Homo sapiens: one gene and its partners. The protein of the gene in region 3 interacts with the protein of the main gene of each other region in a pairwise test. Each region holds a gene or a part of one and is shown on either strand. Other genes may lie near its edges. The genes, in order: CYB5R3, RTN4, LRCH4, NOTCH2NLA, CA8, KASH5 and HSD17B11.

The links.
Region 1: the proteins of LRCH4 (region 3) and CYB5R3 interact in binary tests that used the Homo sapiens proteins (3 or more experiments, as listed by UniProt).
Region 2: the proteins of LRCH4 (region 3) and RTN4 interact in a two-hybrid assay, tested with the Homo sapiens proteins (one large-scale study listed by BioGRID and IntAct).
Region 4: the proteins of LRCH4 (region 3) and NOTCH2NLA interact in binary tests that used the Homo sapiens proteins (3 or more experiments, as listed by UniProt).
Region 5: the proteins of LRCH4 (region 3) and CA8 interact in a two-hybrid assay, tested with the Homo sapiens proteins (one large-scale study listed by BioGRID and IntAct).
Region 6: the proteins of LRCH4 (region 3) and KASH5 interact in binary tests that used the Homo sapiens proteins (3 or more experiments, as listed by UniProt).
Region 7: the proteins of LRCH4 (region 3) and HSD17B11 interact in binary tests that used the Homo sapiens proteins (3 or more experiments, as listed by UniProt).

What each region holds. Positions count from the first base shown.
Region 1 is NC_000022.11:42,632,393-42,635,892, reverse strand, and holds part of CYB5R3 (NADH-cytochrome b5 reductase 3), read left to right. Parts: intron 1-3,500. UniProt on the Homo sapiens protein: Catalyzes the reduction of two molecules of cytochrome b5 using NADH as the electron donor.
Region 2 is NC_000002.12:55,019,452-55,022,951, reverse strand, and holds part of RTN4 (reticulon-4), read left to right. Parts: intron 1-3,500. UniProt on the Homo sapiens protein: Required to induce the formation and stabilization of endoplasmic reticulum (ER) tubules. They regulate membrane morphogenesis in the ER by promoting tubular ER production.
Region 3 is NC_000007.14:100,579,630-100,583,129, reverse strand, and holds part of LRCH4 (leucine-rich repeat and calponin homology domain-containing protein 4), read left to right. Parts: intron 1-670; coding exon 671-815; intron 816-962; coding exon 963-1,089; intron 1,090-1,247; coding exon 1,248-1,353; intron 1,354-3,500. UniProt on the Homo sapiens protein: Accessory protein that regulates signaling by multiple TLRs, acting as a broad-spanning regulator of the innate immune response. In macrophages, binds LPS and promotes proper docking of LPS in lipid raft membrane. May be required for lipid raft maintenance.
Region 4 is NC_000001.11:146,166,522-146,170,021, reverse strand, and holds part of NOTCH2NLA (notch homolog 2 N-terminal-like protein A), read left to right. Parts: intron 1-3,500.
Region 5 is NC_000008.11:60,274,901-60,278,400, forward strand, and holds part of CA8 (carbonic anhydrase-related protein), read right to left. Parts: intron 1-3,500. UniProt on the Homo sapiens protein: Does not have a carbonic anhydrase catalytic activity.
Region 6 is NC_000019.10:49,412,249-49,415,369, reverse strand, and holds part of KASH5 (protein KASH5), read right to left. Parts: intron 2,419-3,121; exon of another isoform or gene 2,403-2,418; coding exon 2,344-2,402; exon of another isoform or gene 2,266-2,343; intron 420-2,265; coding exon 374-419; intron 1-373. UniProt on the Homo sapiens protein: As a component of the LINC (LInker of Nucleoskeleton and Cytoskeleton) complex, involved in the connection between the nuclear lamina and the cytoskeleton.
Region 7 is NC_000004.12:87,384,689-87,388,188, reverse strand, and holds part of HSD17B11 (estradiol 17-beta-dehydrogenase 11 precursor), read left to right. Parts: intron 1-3,500. UniProt on the Homo sapiens protein: Can convert androstan-3-alpha,17-beta-diol (3-alpha-diol) to androsterone in vitro, suggesting that it may participate in androgen metabolism during steroidogenesis.

The DNA of each region.
Region 1 (3,500 bases), on a different chromosome or scaffold from region 3:
ATCCTCTCCCTCTTTTGCCTTGCCCCCAGTAAAGGCTGCTTCCATCGGTCACTTGCCCTCTTCAGAGCCCCTCCCTTGCTCTATTTCTGGCCACCCCCAGCAGGCACAGGAGGGGTGTGGCAGGGAAAACTGAGTCACAGCAGAGAACATCATCTGCCAGGGCCCAAGTCTCCACCCTGGGCTTGTGCCTGGTGCCTCTGACTCAGGCTTCACAGGAATCTCAGGCTTCCATGGCACGGAGCTGGCCGTTTCCTGTAACTGTTGGGGCAAGTGTCTGTAATTGTCCCAGGAGCTCACAGAGAAGTTGACAACCAGAGAGAAGCAAAAAAATACAAAATGAAAAGTAAATTATTGGCCAGGCACGGTGGCTCATGCCTGTAATCCCAGCACTTTGGGAGGCCGAGGCCGGTGGATCACCTGAGGTCAGGAGTTCAAGACCAGCCTGGCCGACATGGTGAAACCCCATCTCTACTAACAATACGAAAATTAGGCCAGGCGTGGTGGCTCACACCTGTAATCTCAGCACTTTGGGAGGCCGAGGAGGGCAGATCATGAGGTCAGGAGATCGAGACCATCCTGGCTAACACGGTGAAACTCTGTCTCTACTAAAAATACAAAAAATTGGCCGGGCGTGGCTGGGCTCACACCTGTAATCCCAGCACTTTGGGAGGCTGAGACAGGCGGATCACAAGGTCAGGAGATTGAGACCATCCCGGTAACACGGTGAAACCCTATCTCTACTAAAAATACAAAAAATTAGCCAGGCGTGGTGGCAGGCACCTGTAGTCCCAGCCGCTGGCGAGGCTGAGGCAGGAGAATGACGTGAACCTGGGAGGCGGAGCTTGCAGTGAGCCGAGATTGCGCCACTGCACTCCAGCCTGGGTGACAGCAAGACTCCGTCTCAAAAAAAAAAAAAAAAAATTAGCTGGGCGTGGTGGCAGGCACCTGTAGTCCCAGCTACTCCAGAGGCTGAAGCAGGAGAATGGCGTGAACCTGGGAGGTGGAGCTTGCAGTGAGCCGAGATCGTGTCACTGCACTCCAGCCTGGGCTACAGAGCAAGACGCTGTCTCAATCAATCAATCAATCAATCAATATGAAAATTAGCCGGGCGTGGTGGCAGATGCCTGTAATCCCAGCTACTCCAGAGGCTGAAGCAGGAGAATGGCGTGAACCTGGGAGGTGGAGCTTGCAGTGAGCCGAGATCGTGCCACTGCACTCCAGCCTGGGCTACAGAGCAAGACGCTGTCTCAATCAATCAATCAATCAATCAATATGAAAATTAGCCGGGCGTGGTGGCAGATGCCTGTAATCCCAGCTACTTGAGAGGCTGAGGCAGGAGAATCGCTTGAACCTGGGAGGCAGAGGTTGCAGTGAGCCAAGATCACACCATTGCACTCCAGCCTGGGTGACAAGAGCGAAACTCTGTTTCAAAAAAATAAAAAATAAAAAGCAAAAAAAAGTAAATCACCACCTCCCAGATGAGACCACACTTAACCTTGCGATATGATTTTTTGTTTGTTTGTTTGTTTTTGAGATGGAGTTTTGCTCTCGTTGCCCAGGCTATAGTGCAATGGTGTGATCTCGGCTCACTGCAACCTCTGCCTCCCAGGTTCAAGCGGTTCTCCTGCCTCAGCTTCCCAAGTAGCTAGGATTACAGGTGCCCACCACCACGCCCTGCTAATTTTTTTTTTTTTTGTATTTTTAGTAGAGTCAGGGTTTCAACATGTTGGCCAGGCTGGTCTCGAACTCCTGACCTCAGGTGATCCACCCGACTTGGCCTCTCAAAGTGCTCGAATTACAGGCGTGAGCCACCGTGCCTGGCCCTGTGATATGTTTTATACTTATGTAAGCAGGCACACATGTTTTTTTCTTACCCAAATGAAATAATAACATTTTGAAACCTGTTTTTTAACGGTATTTTCCCTTGTTATTGTTATTGGTGGGTTGTTTTGTTTTTGTTTGTGTTTTTTTAGAACAAGGTCTCGCTCTGTCACCCAGGCTGCTTTCTGCAACCTCAAACTCCTGGGCACAAGCCTTCTGAGTAGCTGGGACCATGTGCATGCACCACTATGCCTGGCTCTGTTACTGTCGTTCCTTTTTGTTGTTGTTGAGATGGACTTTCGCTCTTGTTGCCCAGGCTGGAGTGCAATGGCACAATCTCGACTCACCGCAACCTCCACTTCCCAGGTTCAAGTGATTCTTCTGCCTCAGCCTCCCAGGTAGCTGGGATTATAGGCATGCGACACCATGCCCAGCTAATTTTGTATTTTTAGTAGAGATGGGGTTTCTCCATGTTGGTCAGGCTGGTCTCGAACTTCGACCTCAGGTGATCCGCCCGCCTCGACCTCCCAAAGTGCTGGGATTACGGGCATGAGCCACCACGTCTGACCCTACTGTTTCTTAATTCCAGAAATAATGTATGATTTATATGTGCTCACAGCAAAAACTCTGTAAGGTATGACCTCCACCCCTGCCCCATTGCCGCATCCCAGGGCCCCGTGCAGAGGGCCCAGGTCACAGCTCAGCGTGAGCCTGCCAGACCCTATGTGGGTATCACGTTCATACACGGGTGTGTGGAGGTGCGGGTGTGTGCACACTCAGTTTCTTTTTTTGATAACCTGGTTTTGTAGCCAGCCATACAACATGGATCCTTTTAGTATTTCATCATAGGGATGTTACACAAGGGAGCATGTGGCAGATGTCCTAGGATTGCAGCTTTGCCCCCTCATTGTGCCCATGGTGGCTTTGCGGGGTCCGCAGCGGGCCTGCTCTGGGTGCTCTGTGCTTTGCCCCACCCTGCTGCCCTACTAGAGGTTGGCCAGCACCATAATTGTTCATCTCTTGTCCTCATTTCTATTCTTTTTTTTGAGACAGAGTTTCACTCTTGTTGCCCAGGCTGGAGTGCAATGGTGCGATCTCAGCTCACTGCAACCTTGCCTCCCAGGTTCAAGTGATTCTCCTGCCTCAGCCTCCTGAGTAGCTGGGATTACAGGCATGCGCCACCACGCCTGGCTAACATTGTAGTTTTAGTAGAGACGGGATTTCTCCATGTTGTTCAGACTGGTCTCGAACTTCCGACCTCAGATGATTCGCCCACCTCGGCCTCCCAAAGTGCTGGGATTACAGGCATGAGCCACCACGCCTGGCCATCTCATTTCTATTCTTCCTCCAAATATTTTCTGGTACATGGGTGTCTGACCTTGACCCTTAGGACCAGTTGATAGTCCTGGAATCCACTTCCAGAAGGCCTTGGGGCTCTGTTTGCCCCTAATGCAGAAGCTTCTGGTAGAGGCAGCTTTGAGGCCTGGGCTGCCTGGGAGAGGTTGGTGGGCCCCCTGCACACCTGATCCTGAGTGGCGTTTGCACCGTCTTTCCTGCGATTTGCCTCTGCTCACACGTGTAGGGACGGGTCTCTCCTTGAGGCAGCTGCTCTGTGCTGGAACACTGCTCAGGTCGGAGAGTTCTCGTACTGAGCCGAGATGGGCATCTGTGATGTCCTG
Region 2 (3,500 bases), on a different chromosome or scaffold from region 3:
ATGCATGTGCGGGAGAGCAGGGTGTGTGTGTGTGTGTGTGTGTGTGTGTGTGTGTTGGATGTTGAATTTAGAATTTCAGAGGAATAGCAGTTCAGGTTGATTATAATGGCCAGTGTTAGGCCATCAGGCAAAGGCCTACTGTGTAGTCAGATTAAGATTGCTAGAGGTGAGGTCAAGTAAACTATGAGGCCATGATACTGTATTGCACTTCTACCTAACATTGAAGTCACCCAGGGTGATGGCAGGACTAGGGGTGGAGAGGAATACTGGGGTTAGAGTCCTTGGTAAAGGGCAGTGAGGTAACTGGCAGGATGGTAGGTAGAAGAAATGAGGAAGGACAGAGAATGACGTAGCGGAATAGCCAAGACTTTTGCCCAAGGTCTCTGAAATAAAAGTCTGGAAGCAGCATTGGTGAGCAGAGGGTACTGACCTCCCCACTCCTCCCTTAGGTGTGTAGAATATGAGAGAACGATTTAGCCTTCATTTAGCAAGTTCCACAGGGAAACCAGTATCTTCAAGGAACAGCCAGGTTTTAGTGAAGGCGAGGTAAAGGCAGGAATGTTCAGTAAAGATGTTGAGGAGTAGAGGAGCTGGTTCACAGTGGAATGGGGGTTTCAAACAGCACAGTAAAATGGTTTAGGAGGGAACAGTAGAAAGAAGGGTCTCAGAAGCCCAGAGCAGCTTGGTGATGACTGGGTGAAGAGCAAGGAGTAATCGGTGTAGCAACACCTTTGAAGTCTCCCCTCCCCGCTAGTGCTTCCTCCCAAAACTTAAAGCTAGCAGTCCTCTAGTAGATGGTGGCCCTTAGGAATTTCAGTATTTCAGGAGTCACCTATTTCTTGGATTGTTTTTGTTAAACCTGGGAAATCTATAGCCTAATAGTTTAGAAGTAAGGGAAGAAAAGGGGGCATTGCCTTTGAAAGCTTAATGGGAATGGTGGAAGAAAGTGTAAGCAATGCTTGGGCATTCTCTTTTAGAATATGTTTATCTCCCTTCTCTGAGAAAATTGTTATTTCCTGCCTTTTTGACTTAACCTTTTTTGATATTAGTTATCATAGCAACTTACTAGGGAATAGAGAATTATTTAGATACACCCAATATATATATTCTACAAAAGTTGTGGGAAGGAAACCCAGTATTGCTATAATGAAAACAATATAGGTGACCTGAGGTTTTAGTCTTGGCTATACCACTGACAATCACTTTGTTTCTCTAGATGTCATTTTCCTTTTCTATAAAAGGAAGGGTGGATTAGCTCAAGTCCTTGCAACTTAATAATTTTCTTGACTTGATTATATAACAGGCATCTGTTAAAAGCAGGTAAGTAGTGGCCAGTCACAATGGCTTACGCCTGTAATCCCAGCTTTCAGGGAGGGAGAGGTGGGAGGATAGCTTGAGCCCAGGAGTTCGAGACCTGCCTGGGCAATATAGTGAGACTCCGTTCTCCACAAAAAAGGGAGAAAAAAAAGACAAAAAAAAAAAAAAGTGTAAAAGCAGGTAAGAGTTGCTTTAACATGCTTCTATCAGGCACTATATGAGATTTTTTTTTGGCGGGGGGGGCAGGGAAAAAGATGAAACTAAGACAAAGTTTTGCGCTTTATGCAACTTACAGCCAGCTGGTACAGACACACTGTTGAGGACATAGTTAAACATTGTGATCTATGTTATAGTGAGGATAGGTACTTACCTGTGTATCTTCGTGAAAGGGAGGTTCAAGTGTACTGAAGTCAAATGTACCAAAATACAGCAGTGGTCTGATAAAACATAAGGGAAGCTCTCTTCTCAGATGACTTAAAAGTTTTATGCCATCTCTAATTATGAAATATTTAAGTGTGTTTTTAAAAAAATTCTGGGTCTTATTAATGTATATGCATTTAAACATTTAAACTATTAAATAATAAAATACTAATTTCCTCAGATCATTTATTATCTCATATGTTCTTCTTTTCTTTTTTCGAGACAGGTTCTTGCTGTGTCGCCCAGGCTGAAGTGCAGTGGTGAGATTATGGCTCACTGCAGCCTCAACCTCCCAGGGTCAGGTGGTCCTCAGCCTCCCAAGTAGCTGGGACCAAAGGCTCGTGTCACTATGCCTGGCTAATTATTTTTGTAGAGAGGAGGTCTTGCCTTGTTGCCTAGGCTGGTCTCAAACTCCTGTGTTCAAGGATCCTCCCGCCTCTGCCTCCCAAAGTGCTGGGATTACAGGTGTGAGCCTCCAGGACTTTCCTGTTCTTGTTTTCTTAAAATGACATTTTGTAGGCAGAAATCAGTTTTAGTTTTGGGAAGAAAGATTGATTTTGCAAGAGAGATGAATAAGGTATTGTGATGCAGATGGTGCTTTATTAATTTTGGGAAGTAAAGTTTGTCAAGAAACTAATGAATTCTGGTCTTCCTCCCCCTCCATTTACAAAGAAATTTGTGACAAACTATATTCTTACTATTGGAATGTAAATACTGATTTTTTTTCTCAGTAGTAGTATCAATGAATGTTCTTGGCATTTCCCCAATGAATGTTCTTGGCATTTTTTTTTTTCCAAAAATTGATTGGCTATAGATATGTTAATTAATTTCTGGGTTATCTGTTCTGTTCCATTGGTCTGTGTTTCTGTTTTTATGCCAGTACCATGCTGTTTTGGTTACTATAGCTGTGTAGTATATTTTGAAATTTAGTAGTGTGATTCCGCCAGCTTTATTTTTGTTCAGGATTGCTTTTGCTTTTTGGAGTCTTGTGGTTCCATACAGATTTTAGGATTTTTTTTCCTATTCCTGTGAAGAAGGTCATTGGTATTTTATTAGGGATTGCATTGAATCTGTAGACTGCTTTGGATATTACGGCCATTTTTTAACAATGTTAACTCTTATGATTCATGAACATGGAATGTCTTTCTTTGCATTTGTTTGTATCCTCTTCAATTTCTTTCATCATTGTTTTGTAGATTTCCTCGTAGAAGTCTTTCACCTCCTTGGTTAAACTTATTCTGAGGTATTTTTTTTTAAGCTATTGCAAATGGAGTTTCCTACTTGATTTCTTTTTCAGCTAGTTTGTTGTTTGTGTAAAGACATGCGATATTTTTGTTATTGATTTTATATCCTGCAACTTTACAGAATTTACAAGTTTTTGGTAGTCTTTAGGTTTTTCTTTATATAAGATCATGTCATCTGCAAACAGGGACAATGTGACTTCCTCTTTTCTAATTTGGATATCCTTTATTTCTCTCTTGCTCAATTGCTCTGGGTAGGACTTCCCATTTCAGTCTTTATTTATTTGTTATGACATTAGCAGTTTTAAAGAACACAGGGCCTCTCTTCCCCCGACTTTATAATAGAACATTCCTCCTAGTGGATTTGTCCGATGTTTCCTAGTGATTAATTTGAGGCTATGGGTTCATTTATGATACTGTATAGATGATGATGTGTCCCTCTCATAGCACCACTTCTAGAGTTATCTGCTATTCATCAGTCCCTCACTGGTTATGTTAATTTTGACCGTCTGGGCAAGATGA
Region 3 (3,500 bases):
CTCCAGCTCCCATCTCCAACCAGGTCTTCTTGCCCTTCCCTCCCAGCCCTTGGGAATCAGTAACTTTATGATTCTTTGGACCTGGCTTGCTGGTCCTTGGGGCTGGCGAAAAACTCGTCCGGTGTCGGGGACTTTATCTCTAGAACCAAGATAGAGTGACCTGTGGTTTTTCCCGTGTTGAAAACACACTGGAGTAGGGAAGAAGGGCCCCGAGGAGGGATGGGCACTCCCTGTGGTTTGCCCCAGGGGTTTCCCATCTTCCCTCCGGGAGCCCCCCAGCCCCTCGCCTTACTGTTTTCCCATGAGCACTGACCCCTCCTCTCACCTTCGGTCCTCCGCCTCACCTGGCATCTCTGAACAGGAACCACAGGAGTTAGAGATTCCAGCTGCTCTCCAGGATAGCCCTCCATTGACATTCCCCAACCCCCAAGTCTGAGGCTTCTCTAGCCCAGTGACGCTAAGGCCTTTGCCTTCCCTGTGCCATTCTGGTCACGCCTGGAATGTGCTCCCGTTGGCAGAAGGCTTTGTTATCTCTCCTGGGAGGCCACATTGATGGCCTTGAATCTTTAGGTGTGGAGGTGAGGGAGTGGGCAGCCGGCTCTGGGGGGACTGAAGGTCCTGTCCGGGCTGGGCCTTTCCGCAACTCTCCCCGACACCTCCTTTTCCCCAGACCTGTCCCGGAACCGGTTTCCCGAGGTGCCCGAGGCGGCGTGCCAGCTGGTGTCCCTGGAGGGCCTGAGCCTCTACCACAATTGCCTGAGATGCCTGAACCCAGCCTTGGGGAATCTCACAGCCCTCACCTACCTCAACCTCAGGTAGGGAGGCCGAGCCAGGGCCACGTGGGAGCGTGTGCTTCTCAGTCTCAAGTACTACTGAGTGACCCACCCAGTGACCCCGAGAGGATGGCAGTGCTGGGATGCCATGCCTGGGGAGCCAGTCCGCTGCCTTTCTCCCTTCCACAGCCGAAACCAGCTGTCGCTGCTGCCACCCTACATCTGCCAGCTGCCCCTGAGGGTCCTCATCGTCAGCAACAACAAGCTGGGAGCCCTGCCCCCTGACATCGGCACCCTGGGAAGCCTGCGACAGCTTGTGAGGATGGGGACGGGACCAGGAAAGGGACCCCTGAGCCAGGCAGCGGGACCTTCTAGGGGGAGGTTGGGGAGGGCCTGGAGCAAAGACAGAGATGGGAGGGTGGGTTCTGCTGGGCCTGGTCTCATGGCCCCTTCCCACTGCCTTCCTGATACCAGGACGTGAGCAGCAACGAGCTCCAATCCCTGCCCTCGGAACTGTGTGGCCTCTCTTCCCTGCGGGACCTCAATGTCCGGAGGAACCAGCTCAGTACGCTGCCCGAAGGTGAGAAGAATGAAGAACTGGAGAGGAGGTGTTTGTATGTGCGTCCCAGTTGGCTCAGGCTGCGGTAACGAAAACACTGCAGACCGGGTAGCTTATACATGGCAGGCATTCATTTTTCACAGTTCTGGAAGCTGAAGTTCAGGATCTGGGTGCTTCCATGGTCAGCTTCTGGCAGGGTGCTTTTCCTGGCTGCAGACTGCCGGCTCCTTGTGGTACTCTCCGATGGCGGAGAGCAGAGACAGCCCTCTGGGGCCTCTTTGATAAAGGAGCACAAATCTCACTGATGAGGGCTCCACCCTCATGATCTCAATTACTTCCCTAAGGCCTCGCTTCCTAATCCCATCACTTTGGGGGTTAGGATTTCAGCAGAGGACTTTTTGGGTGACACATTTCAGTCCATAACAGTGTATGTGCTTTGAAGAAGTTACAGGCCAGGAATCTTCAGAGGAGAATTACACCTTCATTGTCCAGGCTTTTGCAGTATATAAAACAAACTGTAAACGATCTGATTTGATCTTGACCTAGCAACCCTCTGATGCTGGCAGGGCGCAGATGAGCAGCTGTGTTAGAAACGTGGACACAGGCACAGAAGGGGAGCTGGTGGGTGCATCAGCTCTAGGTAGACTGGCAAGGTCAGAAGGGGCCTTCAAGGTCACCCAGCAGCCCTGCTCACCCCAGCAGGGGCTCTCAAACACCTGAGTCGGGATGCTCCGCCACTCCTCCCGGAGATGCCAGGGCCAGTGCCAGAGCCCAGGTGGCCCATCTAATGTGCTTGTTGTGATGCACTGATAGCCTCTGCCCCAAAGCAGGCATGCCTTTTGTTCAGCAGGCAGCAGCATGTGTGTGTGTCTGTGTGTGTTATGTCTTGTGTCTGCGTGCATGTGTGTGTCTGTGTGTATGTATGTGTTTGTGTATGTGTGTGTTGTGTCTGTGCATGTGTCTGTGTGTCTGTGCATGTGTGTCTATGTGCATGTGTATGTGTGTCTGTGTCTGTTCGTGTGTTGTGTTTATGTCTGTGTTATTTATGTCGTGTGTGTGCGTGTGTATGTTTGTGTGTCTGTGTTTGTGTGTGTGTTGTGTTTATGTCTGTGTTATGTCGTGTGTGTCTGTGCATGTGTATGTGTGTTTGTGTCTGTGTGTGTCTTTGTGTGTGTGTTTGTGTTTATGTCTGTTGTGTGTGTTTAGGTCTGTGTTGTGTGTGTTGTATGTGTTGTGTGTGTTTGGGTGTGTGTTGTGTGGGTTGTGTGTATGTGTTGTGTATGTTTATGTGTGTGTTGTGCATGTTGTTTGTGTCTGTGTGTATGTATGTTGTTTGCGTGTGTGTGGGTTTTGTGTGTGTGTGTGTGTGTGTGTGTGTGTGTGTGTGTGTGTGATGTGTGTATGATTCCTGTGTTGGGATCAGGTAGATGCGGGTGATGTGACTAAGATCTGGGGCCATCTCTTAGGGATTTAATGGCTTCTTGAGGAGAGACAGTCATAGGGAAGTTCCGTCAGGGGGTTCCCCAGACGGGGGCTAGAGGGAGGTGGCACTGGACTCTGCGTGGGGGTCCTGGGGAAGACTTCACCGGAGGCGCAGGCGCAGTGGGAGCCGAACATTGAAGGAGAATTCCCCAGCCTTCTGCATCCAGGCAGAGGACCCAGCATGTGCAAAGCATGGGGTTAGGAAGGTGAGCCAGGCATGGCAGGAAGGCCTGTGCCATGCTCAAGTGTGAACTTGGTTTTGAAGAACAAGGAGGGAGTGAGGTGGTCATCCACTTTCCCTGTCTCCCTACTCCCTGACCCTTTCTGCACCTGCCCTCTTCCTTCCCAGTCAAAAGGGGTAGGAAGGGCTCTCTCTGGGCCATAAAAAGAAATCCAAGCAAGATGTCCTGGGGACAGAGGCAAGAGCAATGAGTTCCATCCAATCTGGGATGTCTGGAACGATCCACCGAGGAGGTGGTGATGCTTGAGCTGAACCTTGAAAGATGCATGGATGGGGAAAATGGAGTTCTCCCAGCTGAGCAAACAGCACCTGGGAAGGCTCAGAAGCTGAGGGCCCGGAGGGGTGGGCAGTGAGGTGGGAAACGCGGGTGGAGCCAGGTTGTGGAAGCCTTCCTCATGCTGGGTTAGGGAGCTGTGGGTTTTATTCTGTGCTTAGGGCCGCCATG
Region 4 (3,500 bases), on a different chromosome or scaffold from region 3:
AATCCTATGAAGTAGGCACTGTTATTACATCTCTTTTACGACAGGGAAGTTTAGTACCTTGCCCAAGACTACACATTGAGTAAATGGTGGAGTTGGGATTGAAATCCAGGTGGTCTGGTTCCAGAGTCTGTACTCTTAAGAGCAGAACAATAATAACTCCAAGCATTTATTAAATTCTCAAGATTTATCCGGCACCATGCTACATGCTTGTATTCAAGCAGAGGCTGGTGATCATCTTTTAGAAATATTTTAGAAATGATTACTTAATTGGATAGAAATTAAATTTCTTGAATCTGAAGGTTCTGTTATTCCAAGGATGGCTGGAAATGGGGGAAAAGCCAGCAACAAGATGATGTCTGGCCTGAGGCTTTTAAGATGATCAGAATTTGTATCAAAAAGGAAACTGTGAACACGAATGATAAGTATTATAGGAATTCAGTTAACAAGTCTTGTCAGAATGTGGTAATAAATTATATACAACTTAAAGAGATGAAGTTACTTTAAATTGTGTGTGGAAGCCTTAGAAAAATTGAATAATTAAAGTTTCTTGGGAAGATGATCTCCTTTTACAAATGTTTAGTTTCAAATAGTGGCAGCACATATTAGGATAGAGAGATGACTTCTAGAAAACTGAACATATGGGACTGGAACAGTGTATTTTGGAGTCAGTTACAGGAAGGAAGTTGTTTAAAACCAAGTGAACAACAACAGTAACAAATGCATTTGAGAGAAAGAGCAGTGCAGTCCAGACTTAAACATTAGGGTGGCCATAATAGATGGGGAAGAAGGAGAAATCAGCAATCCAGACTAAGACTTCACTGGGTTTTGAGTTAGACAGAGGGAGGCATAGAAGCCAAGGTAAAATGATTAAAACGGTACATGGAGTGGTTAGCAATTCTCCCTATAGGAGAGAGAATTTCCTTATGAAGTTTCAGATGAGACCACTGAACTTGACTAGAGGAAAGTCATTGTTTTTAGAAAACAGTTTCTAAACAATAATTAGAATTAAAGTTTTGTTGCAGAGGGATAAGTAAGAAGTAGATGGAAAAGAAAGAGGAATATCTGAAATTAGGCTACAGTCATAGAAGGTTAGCTGTGAAACAATAATTTGGAAAGGGAAATGGGACCTCATGAAAGTGTGGGTTAAAAGAGACTTGTATATCTTCTAAGGTAAAAGTAAAGAACTAAGCTGATGTCCAGCCCTCTAAAACATTTTAAATAGAAATCAAACTTTATTAATACAGTAGGTCTAGTTTCACGTAAAGCAAATATATGGTTCTGTACACGGGCTTTAGGAGAGTAAGTCTGTTGTACCTCATATGTAAGTATTATCCCATTTAGAGGAAAACCCTAAGTCTTTCTTTACAGTGGCTTAAAGGCCCCAATTGATCCACATCCCAGTTACAGCTCTCATCTATTTTCTGCTGCTCCAGATATTCTTGCTGTTTCTCAAACACGCTAGGGCTGCTCTCTGTGTTATGGCCTTTGCATTTGCTGTTCCCTTTCTCATGAATGTGTTTTCCTAAGATACCTGCATGATTACTCTCACCTTATTTAGGTCTCAACTCAAGTATTGTCAGTGAAGGTCTTCTCTGATTTTCCTATTCTAAACTGAGATACTTCTCTTTGCTCACCCCACACCCTCATCCCCAGCTCCATTCCTTCCTGTTTAATTTTTTTTCACAGCACTTAACTCCATCTATTGTGCATCTTTTACTTAGTAATTTTGTTTTCGTCTTCCGCTATTAGAATGTAAACTCCAAGAGTGTAAGAATTTTTCTAGCACTGGAAAAATGCCTGGCACATAATAGGCATTTACTAATTGTTGTGTGAATGAACGATTATAAGTTTAATATTCTTTGTGGAAACTAATAAGGTTGATTTCCTATCAGAAACCGATCATTATTAATAAGCATATTGGATGGTATTTATAGAATTAGCCTTCATATGTTCTCTACTCAGAAGTTGGCAAACTTTTTCTGTAAAGTGCCAGAGAGTAATTATTTTTGCAGGCTTTGTGGTCTCATTACAGCTACTTGACTCTGTTGTTGTAGTGGAAAATCAGCCATAGACAATCTATAAATGAATGAGCATGGCTGTGTTCCAGTAAGACTATTTATGGACACTGAAATTTGAATTGTATATAATTTTGAAATGTCAGAAAATATCCTTCTTTTGTTCTTTTTTTCTAATCATTTAAAAATGTAAAAAACTATTCACAGGCCAAACAAAAACAGGCAGTGGTCCAAATTAGACTTGCAAACTGTACTTTGTCAATCTCTGGTTTTACTGATTTCTTAAATATATCTTAGGTTAAAACTTATTTTTCCATACTTGATAGGGAGCAACAATGTGAATTAAACTGTAGAAACAAATAATTCAGAAATACATCTGTTTAGCTTTAGAAACTTCCATTTTGCTTCATTTTTGTTTTCCTGGGAACCTTATATTTCCATTATATGTTTATGATGCTACCATTTAAATGACTTTGCATTCTCTTAGCATATGCCACATGATAGTGTTAGGGTGGTGTAATAGTTCAGGAGCAAAGCTGAGCAAAGCCCACCCACGTTTAAAAATTTGCCATTATTTAGAAGGTGCATAATTCCCATATGGGAGAATGAAGAGTCATCTAATAATGCCCAGAGGGCTGCACTGTGAGTGAGAATTGTGTTGCAGTTTTTAACATTCATAACACATTTCTTGAATAAGCTGCAAATGCTTTTAATAATATATCTCAGAGTTAATTTTAGCTATGCTACATTGGCACTTTTTGCTCCTCCACTTCAAAAAACCAACACAAGAAACTATTCTCAAATCAAGCTGTGATTTGGATGGGGCATTGTATTTTCCTCAATAAGCACAAAGAAGAGAGAAAAGATGTTTTCACTTGGCAAAACTTTTTTTTTTGAGATGGAATCTCACTCTGTTGCCCAGGCTGGAGTGTAGTGGCACAATCTCGTCGGCTCACTGCAACCTCCGCCTCCCGGGTTCAAGCAATTCTCATGCCTCAGCCTCCCGAGTAGCTGGGATTACAAGCGTGCACCACCACCCTGGCTAATTTTTGTATTTTTAGTAGAGCCAGGGTTTCACCTTGTTGGCCGGGCTATTCTCAAACTCCTGACCTCAGATGGTCCTCACACCTCAGCCTCCCAAAGTGCTGGAATTACAGGTGTGAGCCACTGTGCCCAGCCCACTTGCAAAACTTTTTAACATTTATAAGGTTTTTTACATACTTGATTTTGTTCAGTTCTTAGAATAATCTCATGATGTAGGTGACCTTATTAACTATTTACAATGTGAGAAAATGGATAGTCAATGAAGATAAGTAACTTGTCCAAGGTCACAGCACCAGAACTCCAAACCAGACCTTCTGACCTTCTTGATACAGACTCCTCACAGTCACCTGCATGCCATCTTTGGTTTCAGTGCTATGAACTTTCTTCACTGCCTGTTGGTCTGTAGCTACACCTACTCATGAAGATGCCCAGAGCCTTAGC
Region 5 (3,500 bases), on a different chromosome or scaffold from region 3:
GCAAAGTAGGAAACTGAAAACAGAAAAACAGATTTAAAGTTTTTAAAAGGAGCAGTTAAACCTCATCATGCATGGTCAGGCATGATGATGAGATCCCTGGCAGAAGATGAAGGAAATGTGGACTTGCTAAATGGTAATAGTCTCCTGTCTGTGCCAACAACCAGAAAGCTGGTGGCCAACTTGAGCCATCCCCAACCCCAAAACAAAAACACAAACAGGAAACAAGCATATTCCAGATAAACCAATATAAGCAACAAAGACTCCTCCAACAACATGGCCAGGTCCTTTCTTGATCATGGTACTGTGAAGCCCAACAGCCCTCAATCCCTGCCCAGGTGCACAGAGCTTCTGATCTGCTTCCTAGACTCATTCTTAAATAGGAACGAAGAGCCAAAGATCACTGGACTTTTGAGGAGAACCTCCGAAATAAAAGAGGGATGCCAATATAAATAGAAAAAGAAACCCAGAGTAAACAGAGACAGGTAGGGATAGAAAAGAAGCAATATAGAAAAGAATGAAGAAAGATCATACATTCATGAAATAAATACTGGATGTTGTATTTTTTTTAAAAAAAAAGGTTTTTAATTGCAGCGTAAGTTCAATGTTTTAGAAATTAAAAACAAGAAAGCAGAAAGTAAGAGTTCAATCAAAAGACTAAACGATTAAAAATTGAGGAAATCTACTAGAAAGTAGAAGAGAAAGGGAAGAAGAAAGTGGGAGTTACCAAAAGAGGAGGAAAAAATAAAAATACAAAATTTATCAATGAAATAATATAAGAAATATAAGAAAATTGCTGGTAAATAAAAGACACAATTATCTTGACTGGAAAAACCTACCAAGTGCCCAGCATATAGTGCAGAAACAATCCCACCAAGGCATATGGTTGTAACATTTCAAAACAACAGTAGTAAAGAAAACACTGTAAAAGGTTCCAGAAAGGAAAAAAGAGAAGAGACACATAGAGGGGGTTGAGAAGCAGAACGGCGCTAGATCTTTCAACTGCAACGCTGGAAGCTTCAAGCAATGTAATCATGATGTCAAACATCAAACGAAGTCAAGAATACTTCCAACCCAGACTGCCGCTCCAGGCTAACTCCAATCAAGTGTGAAGTATAATAAAGACACTTACAGACACATAGGCATCCAAGCATGTAGCCCTCACTTGCCCCTTTTCTCAGGAAGTTCCTGGAAGATGAACTGTACAAGCAAATAAACCAAGAAATTCCCTGAGATGACGGAGCAACTCAAAAAAGAGGATGGCACGGCATCCAGAAAACATTCGATCTAACACAGGAGACAAACGAGGGGACTTCCACGGCATCCAGGAAACATCCGATCTAACACAGGAGACAAACAAGGGGACTTCCCAGGCTTGAGGTCCAAGGAGCTGCGAGAAGAGGCTGTTAGGAGAGGCCTGGAGAGCAGAAAAGAAAAGCAGCCTCCACAGGAAAAAGAAAGGACAAGGAGGAGCGAGGGAGGGAAGACAACCTGATGCACGCTAATGTCCTAAGAGAAGATCCGTCATATGTTAGAGAGTTTGCAAATTAATTACCGACAGATAAAAAATTCAATTAACAAAAATGCATTAACTCCAGGAAAATACAAAACACTGTTTAAGTGAGACAAAATATAATCTCAGCTGGAAACAACAGTTGCAGTTGTAATAATAAAAATAATGAGTATTAATTTAAATAAAAATTAATTTAAGTAGACTCCAGGGGAATGAGGCATGAGAAATTACATAATGGATACAATGTACACTATTTGGGTGACAGTTACACTAAAAGCCCGGACTCCACCACTATGCAATATATCCAAGAAACAAAACCGCACTTGTACCCCCTAAATGTATACAGATTTTTAAAATTAATTTAAGTATACAGCGATAATACGAGAGTGAAATCATAAGAAAGAGGGCAATAAGAAAACTGGCCTCGTCCAGGTGCTGTGGCTCATACCTGTAATCCCAGCACTTTGGGAGGCCGAGGTGGGCGGATCACCTGAGGTCAGGAGTTTGAGACCAGCCTGACCAACATGGTGAAACCTCGTCTCTACTAAAAATACAAAAATTAGCTTGGTGTGGTGGCGGGCGCCTGTAATCCCAGCTACTTGGGGAGGCTGAGGCAAGAGAATCACTTGAACCTGGGAGGTGGAGATTGCAGTGAGTCAAGACGCACCATTGCACTCCAGCCTAGGCGACAGAGCGAGACTCTGTCTCAAAAGAAAAAAAAAAAAAGGAAAGAAAATTGGCCTCGTCTTCAATAGTAGAGAGTTCATACATAGCTTACTACCAAAGCATAACAGCATTATTATATTCTTACATTCTTGGAGGTAACCACAGGAGAAACAGCTAGAAAGTTTCAAAGTAGTTGTTACTAGGGAACAGCAGCCGTAGGTGGGGAAGAGCAGGGGATAACCACAGGCAGAAAGAACCACAGGCAGAAAGAGTATTATTCACCTTTTTTTTTTTGAGACGGAGTTTTGCTTTTGTCGCCCAGGCTGGAGAGCAATGGCGCAATCTCGGCTCACTGCAACCTCCGCCTCCCAGGTTCAAGTGATTCTCCTGCCTCAACGCCCCAAGTAGCTGGGATTACAGGCGTGTGCCACCATGCCCAGCTAATTTTTGGATTTTTTAGTAGAGATGGGGTTTCACCATGTTGGTCAGGCTGGTGTCGAACTCCTGACCTCCACTGATCCACCCACCTCAGCCTCCCAAAGTGCTGGGATTACACTTGTGAGCCATCACACCCAGCCTATTCAACTATTTTGTATATATTCTATTTTGATAAAGATAAAACATTATTTAAATAAGCGAATGACAGGGTATATAGAGCTTACAAATGGTTCCTCTGAGGAGCTTAAATATCCTAGGGGAAAAAACAACTACTCAAGACATGGTTATTTTGGTTACTTTTCTTGAGTTTGCAGAAATATTGGAAGGGAAAGAACAATAAGGAGGAAATTATTACCATGACAGAGAGGATAAGGGGAATCTGAAGGAGGAAGGTCTCCAGGGAGGCAGGAAAAAAGGGTTCTGGATCATGAGTATCCAAATCAGGCCTAGACAGAAGTGCAGACACTTCTTCTTCAGTGGGCAGGGGTGGAAGAAGGAGGAAGAGAAAAGCACAAAATGCTAGGTGAGGAAGAAACACACTTCATGGTGAGAGGGCCCAGATGTTGGTCCATAGTCTCTGTTTTAGAGTGAGGCAGAAGATTAAAGAAAATTGTGTTTGAGAAGGTAGCAGAAGAAAATGGTAAGTTCAAATTGATGAAGTAAATTTTATCTCAGAGCAGGACTAGGCACACACAGATGCAGTGGAGTATATGTGCTTAGTCATTGCTCTCTGCTCCCACAACCCTTTGTAACACTTGCCACATCAAGTGTACACTAGTACTTTAAAGAACTGGCTTTTCACTAGGCTATGAATCCTCAAGAACTGTCTTATAAATTTATATGCAACCAATATTGATCATGGCACCTGACATGAAATGTATTTTTG
Region 6 (3,121 bases), on a different chromosome or scaffold from region 3:
AGTTCTGAGGCTGGCTGGGGAGGGCCGGCCCAACCTCTCCCGAGTGTGGGCGCATGTGCGTGTGCATTTATGCAATCCGGGGGTGTAGCCACGTCTATGAGGCCTGCGGTGTGGTGGCTGCAGCCCTGTGTGTGTGGCTGGGAGGGTCCCCTGGGAGCAGCCTGGCCGCCCACTAGCCTCCAGGCCTCCCCCCACCTCACCATCGCTCTCATTAGCTACAGCAAAGGCCTTGTTATCTCTTGGCCAAATGATTTTTCTCTCTGCTCCTGAGGAGTTGGAGTGTGAGGCTGGGGCTTGGGAAGAGTTGAAACGACTCAGCCTCTGTGGGTGTGGAGTGGATGGGGACTGGGGAGGGGTGCTGGGGACTGCCTACCGTGACCTGGCTCTCTGCATCCTCCTCTTCCTCTCTTCTGGTCAACCTGAGGGCCAACAAAGTCACTGCTGGCTTCGTCCTCTTCTCCCTGGTTCCCTTTGCCTACTATGGGCTGGGAGAGAAGCCTTGGAGCAGGGGGTCTTAGCACAGGCCAGGCAGCACGGACGGGCCTGGGGGAGGCCAGGCAGCACGGACGGGCCTGGGGGAGGCCAGGCAGCACGGACGGGCCTGGGGGAGGCCAGGCAGCACGGACGGGCCTGGGGGAGGCCAGGCAGCACGGACGGGCCTGGGGGAGGCCAGGCAGCACGGACGGGCCTGGGGGGTGTCCTGCATATGTATTTTTCACAGGAATTTTCACCAAATTACCCAAAGGGTCTGTGAACCACTAAAAGAATAAGGGGGCCTCTTCATCTCAGATTGGTTTTCTCAGCCACTACTTCCCCAGCAGATCCCCCAGCTGGGAACTGAGGCTTCTGGCTCTCTCACCCTCCAAAATACCAGAGATTCAGGCCTCTGTAAGACCCCAGAGCACGTGTCGAAACCCCCTTCCTGTCTAGTGGGTTGAGCCATTTTTCAATGACTGTCACTGGGTGCTCTCTGAGGACTGGGACTCCAACTCAGACCTCCCAGCCCACAGAACTCAACTGTTGGAGCTCTTCCCCATGCCGAATCCTCTTAGGTGCAAGACCCTCTTCCAGGAGGACTGGAAGAGCCCTGAGGGGTTAGCATGCCCCTCATTCATTCCCATCTTCCGGGAGTAGACCCTGGGCCTGTAGGCCAGGAGATGAGACCTGACCCTTCCCTCAGCGAGTCTCGGTCTAGGAGGAGATCTGGCTCCTGACCCTGCCTCGGCGGGAGGCTCCTAGGGAGGCCCCTCCTAGGGTCACAGCCATCTGAGTCCCTGAAATGCTGCTTTGGGGACTCAGGCCTCAAGCTGCCCAGCCTGAATGCCCCTTAGAGACCCAGCCATCCATACCACCAGCCACTGCCTTCACTGGGGACCAGAGATCCAGCCCTGCAGTTGCCACCACCACCAGCTTCAGACCCAAAACCCTCAGAGATACCCTCAGGAATACAGCTGTGCTCCCACGCGATAAAGGATCCAGGCTCTTAGGCCCCAGTCAGACATACACTATCTGATCCCCTGAAACTTCTACTTGGGACCCAACCCCTCTCAAGGTCCAAGCCCTCACAGCTGGCTACATTTAGGAGCCGTTGTATTCACCACCTTCCTCACTCCCAGCTTTCCAACCTGCGGATCAAACTGCCCCTGACCTCTGGAAACTCGCATGGCACCTGCCTCCCCCACTTCCACTACTGCTCAGCCCCTTCTCCCCTCCTTTCTCTGGTGACGCAGAGGGAGGTCATAGCTCCAGAGCTCCCATCCCGCCCAATCTCAGCTCTTCCCAGACAAGTCCAATTAGAGGCCTTGGCAGGCAGCCTCATTAGTAGCCGCAGCTGGGAGCCTGAAAGAGGGGAGGGGGAGAGGGAAGCAACACAGGAAACCAGAGGCCCGAAGGCCAGGGCCCCGGAGGAGGGTGGGCCCAGTCATCTAGTGCGTTCTCCATCCTCAGAGGCCTGGACACAGCCTCCTAACAATCACATCCCAATCACAGGGCTGGGACTTCACGGCATACAACCAAATGCTTACACCAGCCTGACTGCAAAGTACCTGAGCTGGAATCTGAATCCACGCTGATTCCAGAGGCCCCCCCTCACCCCATTCAGGCATGGCAGCCTCGCTGGGAGCCCTCCCCCAAGGCAGGGTCAGGAACCAGATCTCCTCCTAGACCTGAGGGCAGGGCCAGGCCTCATCTCCTGGCCTACAGGCCCAGGTTCTGCTCCCGGAAGACATGAAGAAGGAGTGAATGAATGAATGCCGATCCCCTCAGGGCACATCCAGTCCTCCTACTGTAAACAGCTGTGAATAAGGTGTCACCCTGAGGCAGACGGATGGCTCAGCTCCTTACCACATGGATGGCTCCTTCCTTCCTTCTTCAGGGTGCGCTGGCTCTCCCTGGAAGTTTCTCTGTGGAAACAAAAAGGTTAGTTCTTCTCTGATTCTTCTCACTCAAAGCTCCAACCCTAACAGTGCCCACTGTCTCCCCCGCCGGTCCCAGACCCCATATACAAAAGGTCTTCCAGGCTGCAACCTACACATGAATTCACCACCTTCTACAACCTGCCCTCCTCTCGTGCTGCCCTACATGAGGATGGCCCTATTAGCCCCCTAAGGGCAGAAGCCAAAAACCAAAGGGTTGTTCTCGATGCCACCAAGCCCCCTTCCCTGACAGGACCCAGGAGTCCCGGTTGCCTAAACTTCCTGGATGTTCCACAGATCTCGTACACTTATCTGGGTCCCAGAGGAGATCAGCATTTCCCTGTCCAACCGCCTTCTCATCCCAGGTTCCCAGACTTGGGCTGGATCTATCTGCTCTCCCTCAGGACCCAAGTACCTCTCGGTTTCTCCAGAGACATATTGGCATTGCCCTTGACCTCAGCAACCAACTTGCCATTGTTTTCTAAACGCAATCCTCGAGCTCCAGGATGGTGCACCCAACTCTTCCAGGCAGCCCCCAGACATCCCTCAAGATTTCACCTCACAAGGTCACAAGTTCCAAGTCTTGCCTCCTTTCCTCCCTCCCCATCACCCACATCCCGTCTGACCCCTGCTCTGTCCCTCCACCCCAATTATGTCTGTCTGTCCCTTTTCCTCCATCCCTAGGGCCCTGGCCTGGCTCAGGCTTC
Region 7 (3,500 bases), on a different chromosome or scaffold from region 3:
CTAGATTGTTTTTTTTTTTTTTGGTGTGACTACTAGAAAGATTAAAATTATATACATGGCTTGCGTTATATTTCTATGAGACAGTACCGGTGTAGAGATTTAAAGGGCTGGAGCTACAGATGATAAAATTTCCTGTATTTTGGCTTTTTACTCTGGGGAGTCAATGAAGGGTTTTGAGGGTAATTCCTATTGAAGAGGATCCTCCAGCTGCTGGGCTTAGGAGAGATGTAAGAGGAGAAAAGATGGAAGGAACAAGTAAAGTAAGAGACTACTGTGATAATCCAGGCATGAGATGAAATGATGGGGACTATTGAACCGGGTTGGCAGTAGCAGAGATTCGGAGTAATGGTCAGAAAAATTGAGGACAATGTAGTGAGTTTTTATTAGGTTAAATTAGTTTAATTTAAATAATCTATATTTTATTTTGAGATTATATCCTTCCTACTTTTTGTGGGTAAAAAATATATTTGTTAATGAAATTACATGATAACATATGAGGGTCATTTTGTTAGTTTTGAGTGTCCTTATTTGGCCAAAAGTTTGGCAATCCTAGTTCGGTATACACATCCCACTCTATTTTTCTTGCCGTTTTATAGATTTGAAATTATAGAAGGCTGAGAACCACTAAACCTGATTGGGAAAGGACAGGGTGGGGATTTGGAGCAGTCCAGGTAGCAGAAACTGGAGATGTGAAGCTCTTGGGCTGGTGAATACCTGGAGAATGAGGAAGAAAGTGGAGTGGTGTTTGATTGTTATGAGATCTAGCTGGCAGGGCAGGGAGGGGCCAAACGGAGGGCCCTTTCACCTAGAGTACAAAGACAATCTCTTAGATTCATCCATGTAATGAGGACAGCAGTGTCCACATGTACCATATGTTAATTTAGGGAAGAATTAATGGTGGTGTCAGCTTTGTTGTTCCACTAAGCCTGATAATGGGAATTATTCATTCTGCTTTGTGATAATCTATCACTTCTTGACTATTCTCATTCCCATGCTTGGTTAGAATAGTTTGTAGCCAGGCATGGTGGCATGCTTCAGTAGCCCCAGCTACTCAGGAGGCTGAAGCAGCAAGATTGCTTGAGGCCGGGAGTTCTGGACTGTGGTGCGCTCTGCATGTCTGCATAAGTTCAGAATCAATATGGTACCTTCTGGCGGTGGGCATGAAGGAGACCAAGTTGTCTAAGGAGGGGTGAACCAGCCAGGTTGGAAACGGAACAGGTCAGAGCTCTGGTGCTGTTCAGTAGTGGGATCATGCCTGTGAATAGCCACTGCACTCAACCTGCGCAACAGGGAGACCCTTTTTCCTAAAATACTAGTTTGGAAAGAAAAATTTACAGTAAGTGGTGAGCATATAATATATGCTCAAAGACTATTTGTTGAATGAAAAACTGAATTAATGAATAACTGAAAGAATAATGGGCATAATTTAAAAAGTTTTTCAATTTTTAGTAATCAAGGTAATGGGTGTAAAGGTCTTAGTTGTACCAATAGACAAACATATTTGAAAAAAGTTACCAAGGGAAATCTTGAAGAGTTATGAGCAATTGTACTGTGCTGCAAAACATTTTAAAGGAAGAATTCATTTTTTTTTTGAAGATCTGCTTATTTTTTATTTCTTACCAACTATCTACAGGGCACTGTCCGGAATTTTTTCTGGAGGAATTTAGAACTTAAATTTGTTGCACCGGCCGGGTGCAGTGGCTCACCCCTGTAATCCCAGCACTTTGGGAGGCCGAGATGGGAGGATCACTTGAGGCCAGGGGTTCAAGGCCAGCCTGGGCAACATGGTGAAACCCCGTTTCTCCTAAAAATATAAAAATTAGACGGGTGTGGTGGCGCATGCCTGTAATCCCAGCTACTAGGGAGGCTGAGGCAGGAGAATCACTTGAACCGGGAAGGCAGAGGCTACAGTGAGCTAAGATTGCACCATTGCACTCCAGGCTGGGTGACAGAGCGAGACTCCATCTCAGAAAAAAAAAAAAAAGTTTCACAATTCAGAAGGTGTGGAAAGCAGACCAACCTAAATGAGGAAGACCAAGGAAACAGGGCAAAAGTGAGACAGCGGATGTGAAAGAAGGGTATCTTTGCATCCATATAGTGGAGTGGTGGTTAGTTGCTTGGTGGTTACAGAAAGCCAACCAGTAATAAGCAAATCTCTGAAAACAGAATAAATGGGACATAAATTTTTATTGTAAAATTTGTTCATGTAAGGAAATATATTTGTTCAAAAAAGAGAAGACCCAATCAATACAATATACTTTTTTTTTTTTTTTTGAGATAGAGTCTCGCACTGTTGCCCGGACTGGTGTGCGGTGGCAAAATCTTGGCTTGCTGCAACCTCTGCCTCCCGGATTCAAGTGATTCTCCTGCCTCAGCCTCCCAAGTAGCTAGGATTACAGGTGCCCACCACCACACCCAGCTAATTTTTTATATTTTTAGTAGAGGCAGGGTTTCACTATATTGGCCAGGCTATTCCCAGAATCCTGACCTTGTGATCTGCCCACCTCAGCCTCCCAAAGTGCTGGGATTACAGGTGTAAGCCACCGCACCTGGCCAATACAATATACTTTTAAAAAACTTTTTAAAATATGGTAAAATATATGACATAACACACCATTTTAACCATTTCTGAGTGTACAGTTTAGTGGCATTAAGTACATTTACCTTATTATGCAGTGATCTCTTCTATTTCTCTCCAGAAATTTTTCATCTTCCCAAGATGAAAATCTGTACCCATTAAAACAATATATCTCCCCAGCCCTCTCTCTCCCCAGGTCCTGGCAACAACCATTCTATTTTCTGTCTCTATGAATATGATACTCTGGGTACTGCATATAAGTACATTCATATGGTATTTGTTTTTTGTGTCTGGCTTATTTCATTTGGCATAATGAAGGTTGTACGTGTAGCATGTGTCAGAAATTCATTTCTTTTTAAGGCTGAATAATATTCTATCCTATGTGTATACAACATTAATATACTTGTAAAAGGAAATGCCAAAAGCTGCTGGTTAAGTATAGGAGAGCAAAATAAAGTTTACCTGAGATGTTGATGTCCCTTGAGGAATAAGAGTTCCTCATGAGAGTATACTACAGTTTGTGAGGGAGATTTCAGTAAAAGAAAAATATTGTGGGAACCTGCCCCCAATATTTCAATGTAGCTTCTTTCTATTTTCCATAAGTGTCAGCCGGCTGAGAAATAAAGAGAGACAGTATAAAGAGAAATTTTACAACTGGGCCGCTGGGGGTGACATCACGTATCATGATGCCCCTGAGCCTCAAAACCAGCAAGTTTTTATTAAGAGTTTCAAAAGGGGTGGGGGTGTAAGAACAGGGAGTAGGTACAAAGATCACATGCTTCAAAGGGCAAAAAGCAGAACTACTGATAAGGGTCTATGTTCAGTGGTGCACATATTGTCTTGATAAACATCTTAAACAACAGAAAACAGGGTTCGAGAGCAGAGAACCGGTCTGACCACAGATTTACCAGGGCAAAGTTTT